7 linked regions of the Homo sapiens genome follow. The protein of the gene in region 7 purifies or fractionates together with the protein of the main gene of each other region. This does not show direct contact. Each region holds a gene or a part of one and is shown on either strand. Other genes may lie near its edges.

Region 1 (3,500 bases), on a different chromosome or scaffold from region 7:
GTTAGCCCAGGAAATCCTCACAATAAAACCATGAGATAGATACTATTGTGCCCATTTTATTTTTAGAGACAGAGTCTCATTCTATTGCCCAGGCTGAAGTGTAGTGGTGCAATCACCACTCACTGCAGTCTTGATCTCCTGGACTCAAGCGATCCTTCCACCTCAGCCTCCCAATTATCTAGAACTACAGGTGTGTGATACCATGCCTGGCTAGTGTTTTTAATATTTTTGTAGAGACAGGGCCCCACTAAGTTGCTCAGGCTGATCTCAAGCTCCTGGCCTCAAACGATCCTCCTGCCTTAGCCTCCAAAGCACTAGGATTATTGTTCCCATTTTATAGATTGAAAAAATGAAGAAAAATTAATTATTTTGCCCATCATAATACCACCACTAAGTGACAGAATCACATTATTTGGTATATTTCACAGATAACCAAAAAGTTTTATGCTGGAGCTTACCCTTTTAAATACCCTAAAATTAGATGTGTAAAATTTCCCTTTCTTAATCACAATTTAGGAAAGTTTCCATAAGCACTCATATCTTTTTTAGGCATTTATTACAAGATGTTGAAAATCTAATCCTGTGTTATCCAATATAATACCAACTAGCCATATGTGACCATTACACACATAAAACATGGTAGGTCTAGGCTGGGTATAAGTAGCTTACGCCTGTAATCCCAGAGCTTTGGGAGGCTGCGGCAAAAGCACTGAGGTCTGGGGTTCAAGACCAGCCTGGGCAACATAGCAATACTCTGTCTCTATAAAAAAAAAAAAAAAAAATTAAGAATTAGCTAGGAGTGGCAACACACACCTTAAGTCTCAAGTGCTCAGAAAGCTGAGGCAGGAGGATTGCTTGAGCCCAAGAGTTTGAGACTACGGTGAGCTATGATCACATCACTGCACTACAGCCTAGGTGACAAAGTGAGACCCTATCTCTTAAAAAAAAAAAAAAAAAAAAAAAAAAGGCCAGGTGCAGTGGCTCACGCCTGCAATCCTAGCACTTTGGCAGGCCGAATCATAAGGTCAGGAGTTCAAGACCAGCCTGGCCAATATGGTGAAACCCCATCCTACTAAAAATACAAAAATTAGCCAGGCATGGGTGGGGGGTGGGGGGCACCTGTAGTCCCAGCTGCTCAGTAGGCTGAAGCAGAAGAATCGCTTGAACCTGGGAGACGGAGGTTGCAGTGAGCCAAGATTGTGCCACTGCACTCCAGCCTGGGTGACAGAGTGAGATTCCAACTCAAAAAAAAAAAAAAAAAAAAAAAAGGCCGGGCCTGGTGGCTCACACCTGTGATCCCAGCACTTTGGGAGGCCGAGGCGGGCAGATCATCTGAGGTCAGGAGTTCAAGATCAGCCTGGTCAACACGGTGAAACCCCATCTCTACTAAAAATACTAAAAAAGTAGCCAGGCATGGTGGTGGGTGCTTGTAATTCCAGCTACTCAGGAGGCTGAGGCACAAGAATTGTTTGAGCCTGGGAAGTGGAGGTTGCAGTGAGCCTAGATCGTGCCACTGCACTCCGGCCTGGGCAACAGAGCGAGACCCTGTCTCAAAGAAAAAAAGAAGAAGAAAACAAATAAATCAATAAATATTTTAAAGAATTAAAGGGTGGCTGGTCTAAATTGAAAAGTGCTATAAGTATAAAATATGCACTAAATATTGAAGACTTGGTAAGAAAAAAAGGAAGGAAATACCTTAGTAATTTTTATACTTATTACATGTGTAAATGGCATTGTGGATATTATTGGTTTAACATGATTAAAATTAACAACCTGGTTTTTTATTGTTGTTGTTCAACGTTTTGCTTTTGAGTCTCACTCTGTTGCCCAGGATGGAGTGCAGTGGTGTGATCTCAGCTCACTGCAACCTCCACCTCCCAGGTTCAAGTGATTCTCCTGCCTCAGCCTCCCAAGTAGCTGGGATTACAGGCGTGCACCACCATGCCCGGCTAATTTTTCTATTTTTAGTAGAGATGGGGTTTCACCATGTTGTTCAGGCTGGTCTCAAACTCCTGACCTCAAGTGATCCACCTGCCTCGGCCTCCCAAAGTGCTGGGATTATAGGTGTGAGCCACTGTGCATGGCCAACAACCTGCTTCATTTTGTGTTTTTAAATGTGCCCAATAGAAAACTTGAAATTATCTATTTGTAGCTTACATTTATAGTTTGCACTATACTACTAATGAATAGCACTAATACAGAATAAATTGCAAATTGAATATAGGATATAATACTTCCCTAAAGGAAATATGAACTGAATATTTATTTTGAAGTAGGCTTACCCATCGTGGTGGTGGTGATGGTGGTGGTGGTGGTGGTGATGCTGTGGACCAATAAATTGTCGACAATTAAATAATTCATTCCCAATAGTCTCCCCAAGGAAGTCCCCAGTTCGTGTGATACAAGACTCCTGAGACCCTTGTGCTATATGAGTAGCATTCATTTCCCCTGAAATATCATGTTCTGGGTCTTCAGAGTGTGAACAAGCATCCAGCATTCGCATTCGATTATCTACTGATGGCAATGATTCAGTGTTAAAAACCAGGTCCTTTCCTGTTCCGCTGCTTGTCCCATTTCTTTCTGACATGCCTTGGGAGTCCCCCAGGCAAATGCCTGCTTGACTCTCTAACTTTCTATTCCGAAGATCTGTACCACAACTGCTTTTGGGAGGATTATGACCATGATCATCGTCTTCATCTTCCTCTTTGAGGGCTTCAATATCTGCAATGTCTTCTGACTGTACCTCACTGCCAGGGCTCCCAGCTGACTGGCTTGCGTGGCTAGAATTAACCTCATTGCTAGATCCATCACTATGCCCACTACTGCTACCAGGACCACTGCTTCCATCTTCACCACTGTTGGCAGTTTCGTCAGAACTTCCCTGCATGGATTCCTGTATTTTGAAACAAATAGATTTAAATAAATATTTAAACCAGTAAGAAAAAAGGTAACCAACATTAATAAACTGTACTTTTTAAAAAGGCTGCCAGTCTTGTTATACTCCTTTGAACAATACAAAATGGAATTAAAAACTCAAAGGATGTCAAAAATATTACGTAAAGGAGAGGACAAGCCCAAACATGAATTATGTATATATACCCAATTCAAATGATAAACACGCCAGAAAGCCAAAAATGCCTATAAAAGAAGAAAAACCTATTTTCATACCTCTGTGTCTGAAAGTCGTTGTTGCACATGTTTGGTTCTATTAATAAGTTGCTCATCCATTTCAATGTCACTACCTCCACTTTGATGTGTATCGCTATTATCACTGCTTTGAGGACTAGCTGCAGGTGACCCTATATAAAATACATTTTTTGTTTTTACTTCTAATTTATATTAACATTGACTTAACAGAATGACATTATCATTTGATTCCTTGACCTAGTTACCAAAGCTTTATGCTAAGTAGCCAAAAATAAAATCTCTAAATATGTTAACATTTGCTCATGATTTCTAAAGAAGATGTAAGATTCAATTAAAAGTCAAGATGTTTAAGA
Region 2 (3,500 bases), on a different chromosome or scaffold from region 7:
ATCATGAGGTCAGGAGATCGAGACCATCCTGGCTAACAAGGTGAAACCCCGTCTCTACTAAAAATACAAAAAAAAAATTAGCCGGGCGCGGTGGCAGGCGCCTGTAGTCCCAGCTACTCGGGAGGCTGAGGCAGGAGAATGGCGTGAACCCGGGAAGCGGAGCTTGCAGTGAGCCGAGATTGCGCCACTGCAGTCCGCAGTCCGACCTGGGCGACAAAGCGAGACTCCGTCTCAAAAAAAAAAAAAAAAAAAAAAAAAGTGAAGAAAATGGAAGGCATTGCCAACAAAATAAACTTGGCAATTGTTAAGTGCAAGAAACACTTAGGAAATTACCACTGCTTAGGACATGACTTTGGAGCGCTTTTAACACTAGCCTTTAATGGTGGACCACTTGCTCTGGTCCCTAAACTTGGTGAAGGTGCTTGGAAAATAGTCTTCGCTCTTAGAGAATAAGTGATAAATTGGGCAAGGGCAGAAAAATTGAATACTATAAAATAAGGCTAGTGTGAAAATAATTGCTAATTGACATTTGCTGTCTTATAATAGTGGACTTGCTTTCAGGTTTGGGGAATCAAAGAGGAAGACATAAATTGTCAAATTTTGATAAAATAAAAGTAACAAGCCTGAATCTGTACATATCATGAGACCTATTACAAGCCTATTACAAGACCTATTACAAGAGTTTCGACCATATAATTATTTTAAATCTCAAAGTAACATATTGTAAACACAATACATTTTACCTAAAAGCTGGTATTGAAATAGAGATTCTATTATTCTATGAAGTATAACCGCTTTTAGGAGAAAGGCAGTATAGCCCTAGTTATACCATCTTAAGGGAACTGATGGGGAAATAACGTTGTTCTTATAGAACGGGGTTAAATAGGCCAGGATTTGGGTTTCTCGTTCAGTTAGCACTAAAGGAGACAGCATTCTAAGCACCAGCAAAATTCAGACACAATTCCTACCCTTATGAACCTCAACAGTTTTGAGGAATACACAGTTGACCAATAATTACAATTCAGAGGACTAAGGAGAATAGAGAATGTTCTGCTTGTCTACAATGTGATATGCCTACTAGGAGATAATGACCAAAACCAACAAAATTATATGATCAAATCCTAAGGAAAGCCAGGAGGAAGGAGAGAAAGGGGAGAAAGGGAAGGAGGAAAAACCTTCCTTGCCTAGAGAACAATAACCAAGAAATGTAAGTTGTATGTTTTTACATGAATGTCTCAAATCTAAATAGGAATAACACATCAACATCTAGGCTGCTTAAGTCTGTTAAGAGAGTTATTGATGAGTCATGAATGGGCACAGTAGCAGTCTTAATCACTTGTTGTCACAAATTCTGTCAAAGTCTAGGAGTCTGGTAGTGGAGGCTAAATACTGAAGTTTAATTGCAGCCAGCTATTTAAATCAAGGCACCACTGTTTTTAAAATGTCCTTATTAGCAGTACTTTGAAGAGAATGAAAAGAAAGCAACCAGATGGCTGGCTGAGGGTTGTGGTAGGTCTGAAGTGTTCCTTACTCCAAGGCATGCCATTAAGCAGCAGACTTCAGGATTCTAAAAACTACATCATGAATCATGCTGTTAGAGATCATCTAACTCAAATCTTACTTTATGAAAGGAAACAACTAGGTGTTTATTACGTACCAAGCATGGTTTTGAACAGTACCATTAAAGTATTCTCATTTTAAGGTGACTCAGAAATACTAAATAACTTTCCCAGAGCCATTTTTGGTAGCACCGGAGCTTGGATTTGACTTTTTATTTTATAATTACTATTTTTAGAGATAGGGTCTCATTCTGTCTCCCAGGCTGGAGTGCAGTGGCACGATCACAGCACACTGCAACCTCAAACTCCCAGGCTCAAGTGATTCTCCCATCTCAGTCTCTCAAGTAGCTGGGACTAACAGGTGCGCACCACCATGCCTGGTTGTTTTGTTTTGTTTTAGTACAGACAAGTTTTTCCTATGTTGCCCAGGCTGGGGAGCTTGGATTTAAACAAGTACGTCAGGTGCCAAAGCGTTCTTTCTTTCCATGATAACGAGGCCCAGGAAGAGAAACTGACCAGAGTCATACAACTTGTTAGTGGCAGAGAGAGGATGTCTACTTAAACCTGGAAAAAGTCTATGGCCAAAAACACACACAGAAGCATATAGGAAAAGGACTGATAAGTAAACAACTTCGGTCTTCCGGTGTGGTTTGAAATGATTGGAATTTTCAATATAATCTCTTATTCAATCTTCAAAATATATTGGTAGAATATACCTGTAACTTGTAATCAATATTGTATTTGAAGAATATCTAAGTGTGGCCACCCTCTTAATAGAACTATTAATTAAAAGTTTCTTCTCTTAAAAAAAAAAAAACTATTTTGTAGTTTGAAGGAAACAGTCTTTCCCAAACAACTAGAGATGTTTTCTGAAATCTGACATCAAGTAGCATAACATGGAAGGCTCATTAGGTTTAAAATAAAACAAAAGAGCAAATTACCCAATTTTGGAGATACTAAGAAGAAATAGATTTGCTGGCAATAAGCAACAATGGAAAAACGGACTTTTACTCAGAAGTTCTGAAATGAATGTCAAGGGGCTGAAATCTGGCAATAAGGGGCAGGGGAGTTGGGGGTGGGATTATTACTTCCTATACTTACACTGCAATGAAAACAGTAGGGAAGTTGAAATCAGAAGATTAGGCTTCTCCACTTGTTAACCTCAGGATTTGGGCCAGATGCTGTTTATTCTCTATTCCAGACATTACCTGCCCACTTCCCACTCTCTCTTCCCTAACAGAATTGTAATACTTTTGTTTGAGCAGCTAGTGGAGATCTCTTGTTGTCTCTCCTCCAGTCCAAGGGAATGAATCAAAATTGGTCTAAACCAGTCATAGTTAATCCCATTCCCTACTGCCAGTGATTGGTTTTAGGATGGGTATGTGAACAGTTCTGGACAATAAGACTTAAGGGAAAAATCTGTTGGGGAGCTTGCATTTCTGGGAAAAAATTAAAAGACAAGCTTAGCTAGGAAAGGACTTTGGCCCCCGCTTCTTTTTATTTGTAAAGATAAGATAGAAGTAGAGTGGCAGCAGCCATCCTGCAACCATAAGGTGACAAGCAAGAGAAGGAAAAGCCACCATTCTAAGGATGGCAAAAGAAAGGATGCAAACAGCCTGGGTCCTGAATGAAATTGTTTAGCAACTGAATGAACCCTGGAACATCCTATCAATAATAAATGTCCTTGTAGTTTAAACTACAGTAAACTGATAACAGCAAATTAGATTGTTTCACATCAATATAATGTTGCTAATGTGAGTTTGGGGATTTTTGTAGACTTAATTGTATTTAAAGAGTAAATCTACTGAGTTTCACAATTATTTAAGAGTACTATTGAATTTAAGTAATATTAGATTGAATATAACTTAGGTCAATACTTGGAATCTGAAATATATTTCCTTCAAAAGGGATTCATACAAATTGAAAGATACCATATTTCTT
Region 3 (4,269 bases), on a different chromosome or scaffold from region 7:
TCTATTCGACAATACCGCCATCGTCATCATGGCCCGTTCTCAATGAGCTGTTGGGTACACCTCCCAGACGGGGTGGCGGCCGGGCAGAGGGGCTCCTCACTTCCCAGACTGGGCGGCCGGGCAGAGGCGCCCCCCACCTCCCAGACGGGGCAGCGGCCGGGCGGGGGCTGCCCCCCACCTCCCAGACGGGGCGGCTGGCCGGGCGGGGGCTGCCCCCCACCTCCCGGAGAAAAACTTCAAAGGTTGTGCAGTGAGTGAGACTGTTAGCTAGCACCTTCACCTCAGGCTACTTACCAAGCATTGGAAAGTGCACTGTCCAAGATTCCAGAACATATTCTACTTACTTTGACCCCTTAGACCTCATTCTGTTCTTCTACAAAGTGAAAAGGTGGCCTTCTCATTAATTCTCAAACCACCTGCATGGCAGAAATCACCAGAACTCCTGTTTACAGAGGATCTTTATATATTATTACAGATGTAATAAATCAGAATTCAAGGAGTGGTTTCCAAAAATCTGTATTTTTAATTTCCTAGGCGACTCTGTTATCACCCAGGTTTGGAACCTACCAACCTAGCCAGTTACAATAACCCCATTTTCTTCTCAACTTTTTTTTTTTTTTTTTCCGTCTGTAAAATGGACAGGCATTTGCAAGTACTGTTATGTATCACTGAATCACAGGAACAAATTCTGAGAAATGCTTCCTTAGGCAATTTTGTCACTATGTGAACATCAGAATGTACTTGTACAAACCTAGTTGATGTCACCTACTACAAACTTAGGCTATTTGGTATGGCCTATTGCTCCTAGGCTACAAACCTGTAGAGCATGTTACTGTACCTAATACTGTAAACAACTGTAAAATGATGGTAAGTACTTGTGTATCCAAACATAGATAAAGCACAGTAAAAATATAGTAATATGGGACCACGGTCATATATGCGGTCTGTTGTTGGACGAAACATCACTACTATGTCTGTGGCAGATGACTATAAACTAATTTCTCTGACTTATGGTCATTAATCATCTTTGCCCTTTTTTTCTTTACTACATGTATTATATACTGACTCAAAAGGTGTGCTGATTAAGAGCTCTAATAATAAGAACAGACAATATGGTTTACAATATAACAACATGTATTTTCATTAGATATTAATTATAAACCAATAACGCATGTAAACTGAATACAATACTTCAAATCATTCTGCACAAAGAAATTACAGATCACATTTTTTTAATAACAAAATGTCTACTTGTTTAATAAAATGTTTTTAGGAACTTACAATGTTCAAAACCAAAGAATAAAAATATTAAATATATCACTTTATGGCACAGGACAACATAAATTTATTTTTGTAACACAGCAGGCAAATTTTTGTGCTAGAAACAGGATGGAGAAAAATCTAAATTAAAGCAAAAAGTCAGGAAATGGGTGTTCATAAATTCCTGCTTAACTAAGACTCAACATTTATTGTAAGAAACGGGGCCTCTGAACATCAGATTTTGTTTATAAAAATAAAAACTTCCTCCCTGTCTCTGCTAAAAATACAAAAATTAGCTGGGCGTGGTGGTGCATGCCTGTAGTCCCAGCTACTCGTGAGGCTGAGGCAGGAGAAGCCTGGCGACAGAGAGTCTGCCTCAAAAAAAAAAAAACAAAACAAATAAATAAAAATAAAAACTTCCTCAAACATCAGATTTTTTCACCTCAGCAAATACTTTTTCCTTTGATAATTCATAATCCTGCTGTTCATTTGTCACATTTATGAATATCTGGTAATTTCATAAACAACTACCAATGGTACACTTCAAATGCTGATTCTGTTGAATCTTCTTATTTTTTTTCCCCCAATGAACTTAGGGCCTATGATAGAGAAGATACTGAAACATGCTAAGATAATAATTGGTCTTAGAAAGACTTTACAGCAAGTATTTAATGAAAGCCACTACATTTCCAGCTCTAAAAAGAGCCAGACACAATCCCTGCTTCCAGAGTTCACCATTCAGAATACAGGAGGTCAAGCACTGATTCTGAATCATTAATGGGCTTTGATTTCGTCTTTCAAGATTTGCATAGATACTGATTTCTTCCGGAAGGGCAAATAAAATCTTCCCTTACACACATCATTCTTTGGATTCTCATAAGGGGTATTTTGAAGTCTGTATGTTGACAAGGCCAGTAGATACTTTGTTTTCTCTAACTGCCTTCTTCTACTTAAGACTATGTCAAGTATTTTGTTTTCCCTTTCAGTTCTCCCCAACATACACCTTCTGCAGTTTTGTCTATCCAGTCCGCTTTTCTGTAACACTTTGCTACCCCCTTCTGTTCCCCTTCACTGTTTCCTCTGTTGCTTTCCTCCTTAATAGAAGCCTGGTGATCTGGGCTTCCCCATCTTTCCTTTCCTGGCTTCTTATTCACATGGGTGACTGATCTTAGCACTTCCTTAAAAGTTGGGTTTTCAATAAATATAACTCATCAGCACTTCCGATCTGTATTTCCTTGAGCTTTTTTTTGATCTTCAGATCTGTGCAATAATACTCTGTTCCTGAATGCTATTTAGAAATACTATCCTCAAAACACCAGTGGTTTCTTGAAGCTACTTGTTTTAAATGTTGTATCAAAAGAGATTGATAAAGGAATGTATAACTCAGCAAAGGATGCTTCTACTGTAAATTCCCACCATTAAAAGTACTGGATTCTATAGGTCCACCATTAAAAGCTGGTATGGGACACCAATTTATACACATAAGGGTTAGATTAAAATTTTAATTTTTTGGTTGATATTAAACTGAAATTTATATAACTGAGGTCTGAATCTTAAAAAAAGTAAATGATAAAAATTTAATATAGTTAACTGTTCACTGATATGTCTATTCACTTCATCACAACCTATATATTTAATTAAAAATCAAATTATGAGTCTGCAAATCAGATGCTATCAAGCAAATTGCCATCCAGGGTCCATAATTCTTTTTATATTTTTATCTCAGATGAATATATACGATTCAGTAAATTTTAATGTTCCAAATTGTTCTAAAAAAAAAAATTATCAAAAGCTTCCAGTTAACAGTTGGCTAATTCATTTGCCCCCAACGAACTACCTGTTTGTGTTGTGAGGTAGCATCAAAGACTATGATCTTCTGTGACAGTAGTAGCCTTAATTCATACGCATTCCCTCTTCATAGGAAGAGTATGGACAACAAAAAGGGACAGATGAGTCACCTTTCATTAATCATTGACTCCTGGTGTTTTCATAGTATGTTAAATGCCTGATTTCAATTTTACAACAACAAAAAATACCAATATTTATTCTGAAAGGCAATCGTATGTTCCAAGTAGCAGATATTAACAACTTCCAACACGATCTCTAGGAATAATCCGCAGTTCTGAACCATGTTTTAGAAAAACATTTCCTATACAAACAAACAAAACATAAAGTTAGATATCTAAAAATCAAGTTATCTTAATATTCTGACAATTATTAAATATAATAAATGATTTAGTAAACAGTAAAATGGGTACAAAAGCTCAAGCATCATGAGACCCCAATTCCAAGCTTTTTAAGTCTTGTTCCTATTCTCCTATCTTCACAATCCAACATACGCTTAAAATTTAAAATAACACCAGCCATGAAAACTCTGACGAATACTTTCATCAAGTAACTGTGAATAATTTAATCATGAATACTTCCTTCAATACACAATAATATATCTAAGGACAGGAAAAAAAATGTAAATTACTACAAGTGACAAAAATTTAGATACCCTGACATATTTGGGGTCAATTGCCTGATGAGATTTTCTTCATATCAAGGATATGCACATTCAATTTTTAAAGATAATAAAACAAGCAGTATGTTAGAGTTAGCAGTAATTCAAACTACTGTAAAATATTGAAAGTTTCTCGATTAAGAAAAAAAGAAACCTTTGTCTACTAAGTTTAAAGGCATCCATACAATAAAGTGCCTCACGATTTTCAATAAACCTTTTTAATAAAATTATATATTAACAACTACTGAAGTAACAAAAATTTGCAATTTTAAATCACTTCATTTTCTTTATGGCTGAATTTCAACTGCAAGGCCTGTGAAAACAACATAATTTTGTTACAATAAAGAAATACTTTAGAATATAATTTAAAAATAACTACTGCTCTAGAATGAGGTTACATTAAAGCATGCCTAATTTTAAAACTTTAGATTATAAGCCTAAGAGATTACATTTTAAAAATATAAAACTAATTTTAAAAAAGTTTTAGACTTCTTTTTATAAAG
Region 4 (3,500 bases), on a different chromosome or scaffold from region 7:
TGAGATCATGCCACTGCACTCTAGCCTGGGTGAGAGAGTAAGACCCTGTCTCAAAAAAATAAATAAATAAATAAAAGTTTATCTAAATGTGTATTATCCTGTCTACCTCCAGAAAGGACTTATGAACAGAAATGTTCAATTTGAAAAGTCAAATAATGCTGTTCTACATAACACCACATTCAAATGATTACAACAGCTAAAACCTATGTCTATATTCTTGGTACAGCTCCTAGTAAATTCTACATATACTTCAAATCTTAAACCAAAGGACCCTTCCCTGATTCCATAAACTAGGATAGGTTCCCAATTACATTTCTCCTTTGTATTACTGTGCAGTTACTAGTTTGGCAAAGTCCATTTGCCTGGCTGATATGTAAGCTCCATGAACACAGCTGTATGTCCCTTTATCTGCTCAATCATCCTTGTTCACTAAGACAGTAAGGAGGTCAACAAGTATTTCTTGAATAAAGAAACCTAATAGAAGAAACTTCTTGTATTTTTTGTGACAGGGTCTCACTCTGTTGCCCAGGCCAGACTGCACTGGTCAGATCATGGCTCATTGCAACCTCTGCCTCCAGACTCAAGCAATCCTCCTACCTCAGCCTCCTGGGTAGCTGGGACTACAGTCATGCACCACCACACCCTGTTAATTTTTGTATTTTTAGTAGAGACAGGGTTTTGCCACGTTACCCAGGCTGGTCTCAAACTCCTGGCCTCAAACAATCCACCCGCCTCAGCCTCCCAAAGTGCTGGCTGGGATTACAGGCATGAGCCACTGCGCCCGGCCAGAAAACCAACAGAAGAAACTTCTACTTGTACATTTTGAATGAAAAATTTATTTTATCAAGAAAAAAAGCCTGTAAAATTACAGATTGTTTGTTTAATGTAGGAACACACTTTTATTTTTATAAGAAATGTAGAGATAATTTGTTGAATCAGATGTAAAAACATCAAATCAACAACTTTTTTTAAAAAACCTTAACGTCACAGGAAAGAGAACCTAAATAAAATTACGTTACGGGCCAAAGGGAAATTTTATAAATTCAGTTTCTGCTTTTCTGGGGAATTAATATTTTAGAGGGATATGTCTGCTTAAGGCAAAGCAATGTATCCTAGTCTCTTGATCTAATTATCAATATTCAGAAAATGGTCCACTTCTCAGCCAACAGTCTGTGGATTCCAGGGGGTCAAGACACTTTCATGGGGTCAATTAAGTCAGAACTACTTTCACAAGAATGCTCATCTATTATTTGCCTTTTTTCACTCTCATTCTCTCACAAGCGTACAGTGTTGTTTTGCAGAGGTCATGTGATACAGCAAGACTGAATGCAGAAAAAGACACGAGAATTCAGCAGGCTTCTATTAAGAGAGATCTTATAAAGATCTGGAAAAATGTAAAATAATCACTCCTTTCCCTGGTATTTTTTAGCAAATATAATTGGTTTTCATTAAAAATGTTATGTTACGATAATTGCATGAGGTAATGGATACTAACTACCCTTATTTGATCATTAGACCAACATATACATCTATCAAAACATCAAACTGTATCCCATAAATACATACAATTACAATGTGTCCATTTGTAATTTTAAAAATCTTTTTTTTTTTGAGATACAGTCTGTCACCCAGGCTTGGAGTAATCTCAGCTCACTGCAACCTCCGCTTCCCGGGTTCAAGTGATTCTTGTGCCTCAGCCTCCCAAGTAGCTGGGATTACAGATGTGCACCACCACGTCTGGCTAATTTTTAAATTTTTAGTACTGACATGGTTTTGCCATGTTGCCCAGGCTGGTCTCAAACTCCTGACCTCATGTGATCTGCCTGCCTCAGTCTCCCAAAGTGCTGGGATTACAGGCATGCACCACCATACCTGGCCTTAATTAAAAATTTTTAAAATATTATTTAACATGAATCGATTTAGTATTATAGTTTTAAAACAAATAATTATTAAATAAATTTTTAAGTGTTTTAATTTCCAATGTAGTAACTAGCGGTAGATATAACCCACATAAACAAAAGATTTAGAATCTTCAATTTTTAAGAGTAAAGAGATCCTCAAACCAGAAAGTAGGAGAAATTCCTGGTCTAGAATAAGAATTTCTTTGGAACAACCAATTTGATTTTTTCAAAGAATACATTTAAAATAAAAGACAGATGGCACCCATAGATGTAAAGGAACTTTATTTACATAGTAATCAATTGCAATAAATGAACTTTACTTGGATCCTGATTCAAACAAATGGCTTCTAAAAAAGTGAAATGATCACGGAAATAAATACTGGCTCAATATTTGATATCTTAAGAAATTAAGTTTTTTTAAGTGTTAAGAAAGACTATAACTATTGAAGCTGCAAGATGACTACATGGGAGTCACCATGTCAGTTTGACAACATTAATCCTTTTAAATATAAGAACTTAGAAGGTGCTAGCATTGTCTACTTACTTTTTCAATTCTAACTCTGAAAGAGAAACAAGTAACAGTATCAGACAATATAAAAGCCACTGAACTGTCAATTTAAAACAGACTCTCTTCATTTTTAGGATTTATATTGCTATATATTTTTAAAGCAAATGAAAAATGTTCTTTTGGCCGGGTGTGGTGGCTCGCGCTTGTAATCCCAGCACTTTGGGAGGCCAAGGTGGGCGGATCACGAGGTCAGGAGATCGAGACCATCCTGACTAACACGGTAAAACCCCCATCTCTACTAAAAATACAAAAAAATTAGCCAGGCATGGTGGCGGGCGCCTATAGTCCCAGCTACTTGGGAGGCTGAGACAGGAGAATGGCATGAACCCGGGAAGGTGGAGGTTGCAGTGAACCGAGATCGCGCCACTGCACTCCAGCCTGGGCAACAAAGCGAGACTCTGTCTCAAAAAAAATAAAAAAGAAAAATGTTCTTTCACTTCTCCATTTTTCTAAAACCAAATTAATAAGAACAGCCAAGAATATACAGTACTTATTTTAGCACATCTTACAAGTTTAAGCCGTATTAGTGAATACGAATGTTAATTCAACGAATATTTAAAAACTTTCATCAAACGCAGTATGCTGGGGAGCTAAAAATTGAAATAGGTAAACAACCTGAAGGAGCCCACTATCTACTTCACAACCAATATGTAACCCCCCAACCTATAATACAATATAAAATGGTAATTAGTTCCCTGAAAGATATCTAACATAGCTTATTGAAAAAGTGATGATTTCAACAAATGATTACAAATAGGAGGAAAATCTAAACCTTAAATAATGTATTATTTTAATTGTTGCCAACCCTAGAAAAAATAAGCCCAGCATGGTAGTGTGCACCTGTAGTCCCAGCTACTCGGGAGGCTGAGGCAGGAAGATCACCTGAGCCCAAGAGTTCAAGAGCAGCCTCGGCAACATAGTGAGACACTGTCTCATAAAAAAAAAAAAATTTAGGAAACAAAGTTAACAGGCATTCAAAGGCTGACCATTTCCAGGTTTGGCTCTTTGCATCCAAAGCTATGTATCACCTC
Region 5 (3,500 bases), on a different chromosome or scaffold from region 7:
AAAACACAGTCTAGCCATACAATGAGATACTGCTCAGCCATAAAAAGGAATGAAGCCTGCTCCATGCTACAACATGGATGAACCTCAAAAACAACATATTAAGTCAAAGAAGGCAGACACAAAAGGACAACTGTGCAATTTCAGAATCGGCAAATCCATCCAGACAGAATGTTGATTAGTGGTTGTCAGGGGAGAGAGGGGCAATAGGGAGTGGCTGCCAATGGGTGTGGGGATTCTTTTGGGGGTGATGAAAATAATCCAGAAGTGATTGTGGTGACAGTTGCCCAACTGTGTGAATATCCCAAAAGTAGTGATTTGTTCAGTTTAAATGGGTGAACTATATGTTCTGTGAATTGTATCTCAACGAAGTTATTTTTAAAAAGGGGTAGGTTGACAACAAAGCTGAGGTGCTGTTGTCATGGTAAGGTGTGGAGATCCGCACTCCAGCCCTGGGGTGCTTGGGGATTCTGGTCACATACACGGGAGAGGCGACGGCCCAAGCTGCCCCCACCTGTTCACATGCTGTTCCCTTCGGGTCACGTTCATGGCTGAGAGGTTCTTTTGACAAATCTGGCAGAAGAACAAACCCTTTTCCTCCAGGCTATCATCATGTGCCGATGCTCCTACCCGTGCAAACTCCTGCTGCAGGGTCAAGGCCACCGCAGCGTCGCTCTCTGGGGCAGGGGGCCCAAGCCCATACACTGTGGAGAAGCACCAAAGATCCGTGAGAATAAACTCCAAAGACAAGCTCACCCTCAGACCTCTGCTCTGTCAGCTCCTGCAGACCATGGGGAGCAGGTGGAACGCAAAGAAACCAGAACCCAGCTCCACTCTGCAGGCTGGTGACTTGGACACTGTCCAGTGAGACTGGGCACTAATCAGCACTCCGGGAACAGCCGTCTCCAACTTTAACATGGATATGCATTACCTGGGAAGCTTGTCGACACTCAGATTCAAATTCAAGGGGTCCAGGTGCAGCCTGAGACTCTCCGCATTTCTAGCAGCCTCCAGGCTTGGCGATGCTGGCAGCACAGGACCACTCTGAGTAGCAAGGACCTAAACTTTCCCACTTCTGCTGAAGTTGGCTACCTCGGGCATTGCAAGTTCACAAGGCTCATATTCCAACAAAGCTAGATGTTCTCTTCAAAACTCACCCTTTCCTGCTGACCTTTTACTGCCCATGATAAAACCAGGGCAGAGTGAAATGCCTTTGGCGTTTAAAAGGCAGCATCTCTTACTTAGCATCAGACTCAAGAATGGACTGATTCTGGTCTTGAGATGGCTCCCAGGGTGGCCCATCTGATATTGCTGGAGCAGACCCCTGTCACTCACAAGGGATATGCCCTGAACGCCTCATAAATCCCCAAGTTCTTCATGGCTGTGGCCTACCAGTGCCTGCCACTGAGGCCAGCAAAACAGCACACCTTCATTTTGGTGCCCTGTTTTGTTTGTTTGTTTGTTTTTGAGATGGAGTCTCACACTCTGTCGCCAGGCTGGAGTGCAACGACGCGATCTCAGCTCACTGCAACCTCTGCCTCCCGGGTCCAAGCGATTCTCCTGCCTCAGCCTCCTGAGTAGCTGGGATTACAGGTGCCCACCACACCTGGCTAATTTTTAGTAGAGACAGGGCTTCACCATGTTGGCCAGGGTGGTCCTGAATTCCTGACCTCAGGTGATCTGCCCGCCTTGGCCTCCCCAAAGTGCTGGGATTACAGGCGTGAGCCACCGCGTCCAGCCTGGTTTGGTTTCTTAACAAACAAATGGTTTATCTCTTTCTGAGCACTTGCTGGGTGTGATGTGAAGATACAGAGAGAACTGAGTCAAATGCTGGGCAGGGGCGGAGCTCACACCAGCTGGGTGCCTCCTCTGCAACTCACATGTGCGTCCAGGACTGATGCCTCGGCAGGACATCAAATCACTGCCTGCTGTGGACCCTGGGGTGGCCTGAGACTCCTCCGTGCTACTGCAGTGAAATCTGCAATGCAATGCCAAGATCCTGCATACTTATTAGCTGTAGGTCTGCCGATAATGGTTTCTTCCTATTTCTTTTCCTTTTGTATATTTTCATCAGAGATGAGAATCCATATTGTTTTGGGGATGGAGAACAGGAGCACCTGGCATTATTACGCTTATTGGGCCGGTGCCACACCAAGTACACAGCAGCTATGGGGCACTGTCGCCACCCTGTCTCACCTGCAGCCAATGAGCCTCTAATCTACTCAGAGTGGGGCAACCCAATGGTTAGAGGAAGGAGTTAACGATCCCATAAAGAAATAAATCCAGAAAGTGGGAAATCTTATAATACAATTAGCCTAGCCTCTTCAAAAACTCAGTGTCATAGGGCTGGGTGTGGTGGTTCACACCTGTAATCCTAGCACTTTGGGAGGCTGAGGAGGGCAGATCCCCTGAGCTCAGGAGTTCAAGACCAGCCTGGGCAACATGGTGAAACCCCATTTCTAGTAAAAATACAAAAAAATTAGCCGGGTGTGGTGGTGGGTGCTTGTAATCCCAGCTACTCAGGAGGCCGAGGCACGAGAATAGCTTGAACCTGGGAGGCAGAGGTTGCAGTGAACCGAGATTGTGCCACTGCACTCTAGCCAAGCCTCTGTCAAAAAAAAAAAAAAAAAAAGTCAGTGTCATGGAAAACAAAAGGAAATGGGGGACTATTCTAGAATCTAGACCTTAGGATACTGCTGAGCTACAGCAATATGCAGTGTGTGAACTTACTGAATCCTTGTTCAGAAAAAAAAGAAACCAGCTACAAAAAATAACCTTGAGACAACCAGGGAAATTTGAGTTTGAACTGGACGCCAGGCACTATTATGGAATTAAGCGTGCTAATGGTATTGTGGTTATGCAGCAGAATCTAGGGGTAAAGGATCCTAATGTCTATAATTTACCTTCAGATAATATGGAAGAAAAATATGTACGCTTGGCTAGGCACGGTGGCTCACGTCTGTAATCCCAGCACTTTGGGAGACTGAGGTGGACAGATCACAAGGTCAGGAGTTCCAGAACAGCCTGGCCGGCATGGTGAAACCCCAACTCTACTAAAAATACAAAAATTAGCTGGACGTGGTGGTGCATGCCTGTAGTCCCAGCTTCCTGGAAGCTGAGGCAGGAGAATGGCTTGAACCCAGGAGGTGGAGTTTGCAGTGAGCCGAGATTGCGCCACTGCACCCCAACCTGGGAGACAGACCAAGACTCCATCTCAAAAAAAAAAAAAAATGTATATTTATAAAGACATAAACAAATGGCCAAATGTTAACATTTGTTAAATCTAGATTGAGGTATAGGGGATTAGGGGATTCATTGTAATTTTTTTTTTTTTTTTTTTGAGACAGGGTCTCACTCTGTTGCCCTGGAGTGCAATGATGCAATCACAGCTCACTGCAGCTCAACGTCCTGGGCTCAAGCAATCCTCCCACCTCAGCCTCCCGAGTAGCTGGGACTACAGTTGTGCACCATCATGCCCAGCTAATTAAAAAAAAATTTTTTTT
Region 6 (2,962 bases), on a different chromosome or scaffold from region 7:
ACTCCGGCCCTGAAGCGGGCAATGAGGTTTGCACATACAAGTCCACGAAGAAGGAAAGGCAAAAATACTCTCTCTACTCTCCAGCCCTCATCCTCAAGGCTAGTATAAAACAAGAAAAGGTCAGTTAAATGTATTTTCATCCTTCTTTTATTTGTTAAAAATAATATGCCTAAAAGTCTGCAGATGAGCTAATATGTCCTTGAAAGGGGGCATGTTACATACAGGTCTCTTTAGCATTTCTAATTCTGTGAAAGCCACCTTAAATCTTTTGGGAGACAAAACAGTTTGTTGGAAGAAAACAGCCTCTGATGTAGCTATAAATCGCTATTCTATTTTCTTATGTATTTATAAAATCATACCAGAAATAATGAGTTGTTTTGTCAATAATAGAACACTGACATGAACTTGACCTAACAACTAGCATAAACTGTCAATTCATCTTGCATTAACAAGAAAATGAAACAAGAAATAACTATTAGAAAGAAATGACAAAATTCAAATTGACTTTGAAAAAATCTGATTTTATTTTCTCAATCAAAATGAAGTATTTCATGTTAATTTAGACTGTTTAGCTTTCCACTGATATCTCAAGATACTTTCCAGATATTAACAGTACTCAGAACTGTGTAAAAGTTAACCACCAAAACCATGTTTTAAAGAAAAAAGTTTAAATGTAAGACTAATGTCTTGGGGACTTTACTAAATGTATTTCTAAAAAAACCCTTCTCAAATGTAGAAGTATTGGCAATTCTAATTTAAAAATTTTAAATTTTTAATTATTGGAAATTTAAGTAGCAATAGTTTCAAGAGCTAAGAATCAGATTGCTTTTTAAAACAGAATTTTTTTTTTTTCCTGAGGGACTCATACTTGACAACTCCAGTTAAACATAATACTCCACCCAAATCCCAAATTTAAATGCATTATGTCACCCTGGAATAGTAAAATTATAAAATGGTATTTCTAAATTATAATATATATACATAATGCACCATTTTAACTGTCACATTTACCAGCAGAATTATGAAATCAAAAACAAATTCTACATTCAAGGGACAAACGATAAATGCTCTTTCATTGTTTTAAGAGTCCATTCCATTCTTTGTTGTTTTCTACTCCCATATTTTAAAATTATGACCAAAGGAGCCTGAAGGCCAAGTCAATCCCATTTCCCTGAACCCAACTGCCAGTAGGTACGGGCCCTACATACGCGTCCTTTAACAAGCCCCGTTCTCAAAAGGCTGGGGGTATTTATATAAGAACTTATTCCAAAGTGACTCTAAGATCCATGTTCCCAAGATCTAGTACGGGCTATTCAGGGTTCTGAGGCATGTCCAGCATGCAGGCAAACTTATCTGTTCAAATTGAGGTAAAACAGACAAAAAACACTTAATATTAACAGAAGCTACATAATTAAAACTAACCTTCTGCTGCTTATTTAAGCTAATGATGTATTCTTACCAAACAGAGACCCTCAAGTCAATCATTTCTTTTGATTTTAGTTACCACCCCCAAATTAAGCCTCTTCTTTCAAAGCTATTATTAGTTAAAAAAAAGTTTTAAAATGAAGAAAAATATTTTTTCCAGAACTTGTATTTTGTAATTAGTGTGATGCAATTTCTTTTTATTTTTCAAACTTAGAAATAACTCATGTATGGTACTATTTGGTATTTTTTTCAGATACCAAGGAATACCGACAGGATTCATAAATAGGATTTTCTGACACTGGCAGGAAAGTCTGCTAACGTTTACAAAATACCAAAGACTCTTCTTTCAAGCTTCAAAGATGGCTGAGAATTAACAGTTATGATTAGTTTTTCAGTACAAATAAAAAAATTAAATCTTGATTTTTTTGGCCAACATTTTAAACAGTCAAATTTTACTGTATTTCCAGGTTTCAAATCAAAACAAACAAAACAACTAATGAAAATTACCCAATTGGCAACAAGTCCTGTATTCCAATGTTATTTTTAAACCACCAATTATAACCTACTGCCAGTAATTATTTGTAAGTACCTGCTTGTTTTATTAAGCACTGGTCAGTTATATAAAAGAATAATTTGCAAGAATGATACTTGGCAATGGGTTACCTTAATGCTTCTGGAATAAACAGAAGCATTAACAAAACACCAGATCTTAAGCTCTTTTAAATCTGTAATTCGAATTACCCAAAGGATTTTTAAATGTTACTTTTCCATTGAAGGACTGTAGGGAGTCTAATCCCAGCTAACATGGTTGATTTTAAAAAACAAATAAATCCCTAAGCCACATAGTAATGGAATACTACACTTGCTTTTTATATCATATGGAAACAGCTCCAGGCAGAGCACAAGTAGAAGAAAACCTGCCAAATCAAAGTACTGTAAATAAAGTTCCTCTACGTACTCCAGTTGACAAAACCTCAAAAATAAAAATCAGAAGACCACCCATTGTTACCCTCCCCCCCGCAACAAAACCCACCCAAAACACTTTAGTTCTGAACCTAACATTTCCCTAAGAAGTTCACAGGAGAAGCTTTAAGGTACTTAAAGCTGCAGCAGTACAGTTGAAAGCGCCACATTACAGAGGAAATGCCCTAAAGGGTTCAGCAGCTGCCCACCCATCCCGAACCACCCCCCATCCCAGTAATATGTAAAAGCTCCTGTTAAAGTTTTTTTTGTTTTATGCTAATAAAGGCATACCACCTAGTGTGCTAAAGACTACGACTAGCAGCATTAGAGCAGTAAAGTGAAAATAGGAAGCCTATAGGAATGATCTAAATGCCTACTTAGAAGAAACAAAGCAGCAGACAGAATCCTTAGCCCTCTAGTCTATGTAGGGAAGCAGTTGAATTAAACTCAGATTTACCCACATTAACAAAAATTTAACAAAGCTTCCCCAAGACACCAGAATAAAACTTGACCTTTCCAGTCAAAGGGCAGAGAGAGGCCTCTTCCATGTCCTGGAGTTGAATGAGTTCAAAGA
Region 7 (3,500 bases):
GCCCGCCATCCATGCCATGCTGGACGTACCTCCCCAGGCACAGAGCTCCAGGAGAGGACTCCCGGGATGACCCCCACAGTACAGAAGGGAGGGGCTCAGAACCTGAGGGCGACTTCCAACAATGTCCTGGGGCCCTGCTGGGGGGTCTGGGTCCTAGGGAGTAGGCTTCAACACAGGCAAGGATAAGACAGACAGAAGCAACAGGACCACTCGGCCCCTGTGGGGAGTGTGTGCTGGTATAGTCACCAGTGCATGGCAGGGCCCTTTCTCCAAGTCCTCCTAGAGGACTCCTCGGACATGGGCATGGCCAGGTGCCTCCACGCATGTTCACGCGCCATGATTTATCATTAGTGAAGACCTCAGATGACCAATCGCCGCCACAGTTAGCAACAAGCCCGAACCTCAAAACCTCAAAACACGCCACTCAGCCAACAAAGCAAGCTGCAGAAGGATCCGTTGAATAAGATGATATTTACATAAAAACCTAAGTAGGAGGCCGGGCATGGTGGCTCACGCCTGTAATCCCAGCACTTTAGGAGGCTGAGGCAGGCGGAGCGCTTGAGTCCAGGAGTTTCAGACAAGCCTGGGCAACATGGCGAAACCCCGTCTCTACTAAAAATACAAAAAAATTAGCCGGGCGTGGAGGCACGTGCCCGTAGTCCCAGCTACTTTAGGGGGCTGAGGCAGAAGGATGGCTTGGGCCCAGGAGATTGAGGTTGCAGTGAGCCCAGATCATGCCTCCGCACTCCAGCCTGGGTGACAGCGTGAGACATTGTCTCTCAAAAAAACAAAACAAAACAAAAAACCTAAGTAAGCAAAACAGCAGCTTGAATGGTCAGGAACATACTCCTGCTGAAAAGAACCAAAGACATGCCTGGGAATGACAGCCACACGTTCAGGGGTCGGGGAGCGTTGGGGCTGGCTGCATGGGGAGTCCGCGGCACCTGCAAGGCTGGCGACAGGCAGGGTGGGGTAGGTGTTCTGTGCATCTGAAACACTCATTAACCAGCCAGGCCACAGAGGCCTTCCAGGACTTCCTTTCTTCCTTCCTGTACCCAGAGCTGGCCTCCTGCTTCTGTGCAGGCTGTGCCTACCTGTCCACGTACACTGGCTGGCCAGCTCTGGTTTCTCGCCCCCACCTTGGAAGGGCCTTTGTCCAGATGCCCCTGAGCTCCAGGTGCTCAGATGGTGCAGCTGCCATTCACTGAGTGCCCACTGCATGGGGCACCGCTCAACACTGTGCACCAGGGAGGACAGGAGGTCCTAGACCCGGGCAGGGTCACGGGCCAGCAGCCAGCCGGACCAGGTGGGGCCTCCCCGCCCCCGCCTGCCCTGGCACTCACAGGGTGGTCTGCTTTTCCGGTTGAAGTGGTGGTGAGGAGTAAGCCCCGGCTGGGAACACACTGTCTCAACCTGCTGCTGGACCCATCCCCCTCTGTGTCCACATTATCTCAAACACAGCCAGTGGCCCTCTGTGCCGTGGGGAGACCTACCTGAGACAACACAGAACCCAGCCTGGCTCATGATGGCAGCGCTAACAATCGCCTTCCATAGCAGGAACTCAGGAGGCGGCTCCTGGGACTGGCCTGTGTGCCAGTCCTCCTAGGAGGCAGTGTGGGCGGGGTGGGGTCGGGTGTGCCCTGGCCTCTGTGTGAACCTGCTCTGCACCTCCCTCAGGCCCTACCTGCTTCAGCACCACATCCGGGTCATAGTTCATGACCGTGAAGTGCTTCTCGTAGTCATCCAGGTCGTTGAGTGCAAAGGCCCTGGAAGACAAGTGTGCAGACACATATGGGTTCTTGAGCGGCCTTGTCCCTGCGAGGGAGGTGCCACCCACTCAGCCTTCCCAACTAGGGGTTCAGGGCTCAGGGCAGGACCACCTGCTGCTCAGGCGGGAGCCTGTTCCCTTGTCTGTGTGGCTGGGGGAGCCCCACAGCCCCACTGAGCTGGGGTGGAGGTGAGTGAGGTGCTAGCTGTGAAGCCTCTGCAGGTCCATAAAAATGGCACCTGGTTCTCATGTTGGTGCCCATTTTACAAAGAATGTTCACATCCATTACTGTGGGCAACACCAGAACTCTGAGGTGGGCAGGGCAAGTCACCGCCAATTAACACCAAGGGAGATGGGCTCCAAGGGCCGCTAGCTGGGTGAGTGATGGAGGGTGCCTTCCAACAACATTTTCTGATTCCAAAAAGGGCCCATCACCCACCCGCTACCTCCACCCGGTCACCCAGCTCCCCGACCCTGGACCCAGCCGGCCCTCCACTTACCGGTTGGAGAACCGCAGCCAGAACACATCATACACGAACAACCGTAGGGGCCTCACTGACCGCAGCAGCACGATGTAGCGGATGTCGAACTTGACCTTTCCCACGTCTTCTCGAAGGAACAACACGGGACTTTCGATGTACTTGGACACAACCTGGAGGACACAGGTGCAAGCTCGCTGGTGGCCAGGACAGAGCCCCCTGGGGCTCCCGAGCACACAAAGCCACGCAGGGGGCACAGACATGGCTGCACTTTACTCCTCCTTCTGCCTTTTCAAACCTGCCTAAGTTGCTGCAAAGTCTTTTTTTTTTTTTTGAGACAGAGTTTTGTTCTGTTGCCCAAGCTGGAGTGCGGTGGCACAATGTTGGCTCACTGCAACCTCTGCCTCCCGGGTTCAAGCGATTCTCCTGCCTCAGCCTCCTGAGTAGCTGGGATTACAGGTGCCCGCCACCACCCCCAGCTAATTTCTGTATTTTTAGTAGAGAAGGGGTTTCTCCATGTTGGCCAGGCTGGTTTCGAACTCTTGACCTCAGGTGATCCGCCCACCTTGGCCTCCCAAAGTGCTGGGATTACAGGTGTGAGCCACCGCACCCTGAAGCAAAGTCTTTATATCCATTTTTAATTGAAATGAAATATAAATTCTCACCCATAATTCCATCCACCCCCATCCCATGGCCTGAAGTCTCCACGACAATCGTCCTCATGATGCATTTCCCGCCAGCCTCTGACTATGTACACAGTCCAGGCAGATCCTGTGTCCTGCAATCCCAATACTGCTTCTGGATGTCCCCTCACTATGAATCTTTACCACGGCTCTGAGAGGCTCCTTGTCCAGGCTCAGCCACCTCACCCTGCTGGGCAGCCATACCTGGCACACTATGTGGTAGGAACTTTGCGATTAGACGCACCCAGGACAGTTCTTTTTTTAAAGACTGGGTCTTGCTCTGTCGCCCAGGGCGGAGTGCAGTGACGCGATCACAGCTCACTGCAGCCTCAACCTCCCGGGCTCAAGTGATCCTCCTGCCTTAGCCTCCTGAGAAGCTGGGACTACAGGTGTGTGCCAACATGCCCAGATAATTTTTAAAGTTTTTTCCCTTGTAGAAACGAGGTCTCCCTATGTTGCTCAGGTTGGTTCCAAACTTCTGGGCTCAAGTGATCCTCCTCCACTTCCCAGAGTGCTGAGATTACAGGTGTAAGCCACCCTGCCCAGCCTGGACCTGTCCATAAGGACCAT

The links.
Region 1: the proteins of TTLL12 (region 7) and USP34 fractionate together in Homo sapiens (co-fractionation; one large-scale study listed by BioGRID). This does not show direct contact.
Region 2: the proteins of TTLL12 (region 7) and PPME1 fractionate together in Homo sapiens (co-fractionation; one large-scale study listed by BioGRID). This does not show direct contact.
Region 3: the proteins of TTLL12 (region 7) and UFM1 fractionate together in Homo sapiens (co-fractionation; one large-scale study listed by BioGRID). This does not show direct contact.
Region 4: the proteins of TTLL12 (region 7) and RPRD1A fractionate together in Homo sapiens (co-fractionation; one large-scale study listed by BioGRID). This does not show direct contact.
Region 5: the proteins of TTLL12 (region 7) and SLX4 purify together in Homo sapiens (co-immunoprecipitation; one large-scale study listed by IntAct). This does not show direct contact.
Region 6: the proteins of TTLL12 (region 7) and ACTR2 fractionate together in Homo sapiens (co-fractionation; one large-scale study listed by BioGRID). This does not show direct contact.

What each region holds. Positions count from the first base shown.
Region 1 is NC_000002.12:61,345,588-61,349,087, forward strand, and holds part of USP34 (ubiquitin carboxyl-terminal hydrolase 34), read right to left. Parts: intron 3,300-3,500; coding exon 3,169-3,299; intron 2,894-3,168; coding exon 2,283-2,893; intron 1-2,282. UniProt on the Homo sapiens protein: Ubiquitin hydrolase that can remove conjugated ubiquitin from AXIN1 and AXIN2, thereby acting as a regulator of Wnt signaling pathway.
Region 2 is NC_000011.10:74,177,789-74,181,288, reverse strand, and holds part of PPME1 (protein phosphatase methylesterase 1), read right to left. Parts: intron 1-3,500. UniProt on the Homo sapiens protein: Demethylates proteins that have been reversibly carboxymethylated. Demethylates PPP2CB (in vitro) and PPP2CA. Binding to PPP2CA displaces the manganese ion and inactivates the enzyme.
Region 3 is NC_000013.11:38,359,851-38,364,119, reverse strand, and holds the end of UFM1 (ubiquitin-fold modifier 1), read right to left. Parts: intron 4,080-4,269; coding exon of another isoform or gene 4,054-4,079; exon of another isoform or gene 3,410-4,053; coding exon 3,342-3,409; 3' UTR 501-3,341; downstream 1-500. UniProt on the Homo sapiens protein: Ubiquitin-like modifier which can be covalently attached via an isopeptide bond to lysine residues of substrate proteins as a monomer or a lysine-linked polymer.
Region 4 is NC_000018.10:36,057,560-36,061,059, forward strand, and holds part of RPRD1A (regulation of nuclear pre-mRNA domain-containing protein 1A), read right to left. Parts: intron 1-3,500. UniProt on the Homo sapiens protein: Interacts with phosphorylated C-terminal heptapeptide repeat domain (CTD) of the largest RNA polymerase II subunit POLR2A, and participates in dephosphorylation of the CTD by RPAP2.
Region 5 is NC_000016.10:3,601,607-3,605,106, forward strand, and holds part of SLX4 (structure-specific endonuclease subunit SLX4), read right to left. Parts: intron 702-3,500; coding exon 512-701; intron 1-511. UniProt on the Homo sapiens protein: Regulatory subunit that interacts with and increases the activity of different structure-specific endonucleases.
Region 6 is NC_000002.12:65,268,792-65,271,753, reverse strand, and holds the end of ACTR2 (actin-related protein 2), read right to left. Parts: 3' UTR 501-2,962; downstream 1-500. UniProt on the Homo sapiens protein: ATP-binding component of the Arp2/3 complex, a multiprotein complex that mediates actin polymerization upon stimulation by nucleation-promoting factor (NPF).
Region 7 is NC_000022.11:43,170,135-43,173,634, forward strand, and holds part of TTLL12 (tubulin--tyrosine ligase-like protein 12), read right to left. Parts: intron 2,421-3,500; coding exon 2,269-2,420; intron 1,767-2,268; coding exon 1,685-1,766; intron 1-1,684. UniProt on the Homo sapiens protein: Negatively regulates post-translational modifications of tubulin, including detyrosination of the C-terminus and polyglutamylation of glutamate residues. Also, indirectly promotes histone H4 trimethylation at 'Lys-20' (H4K20me3).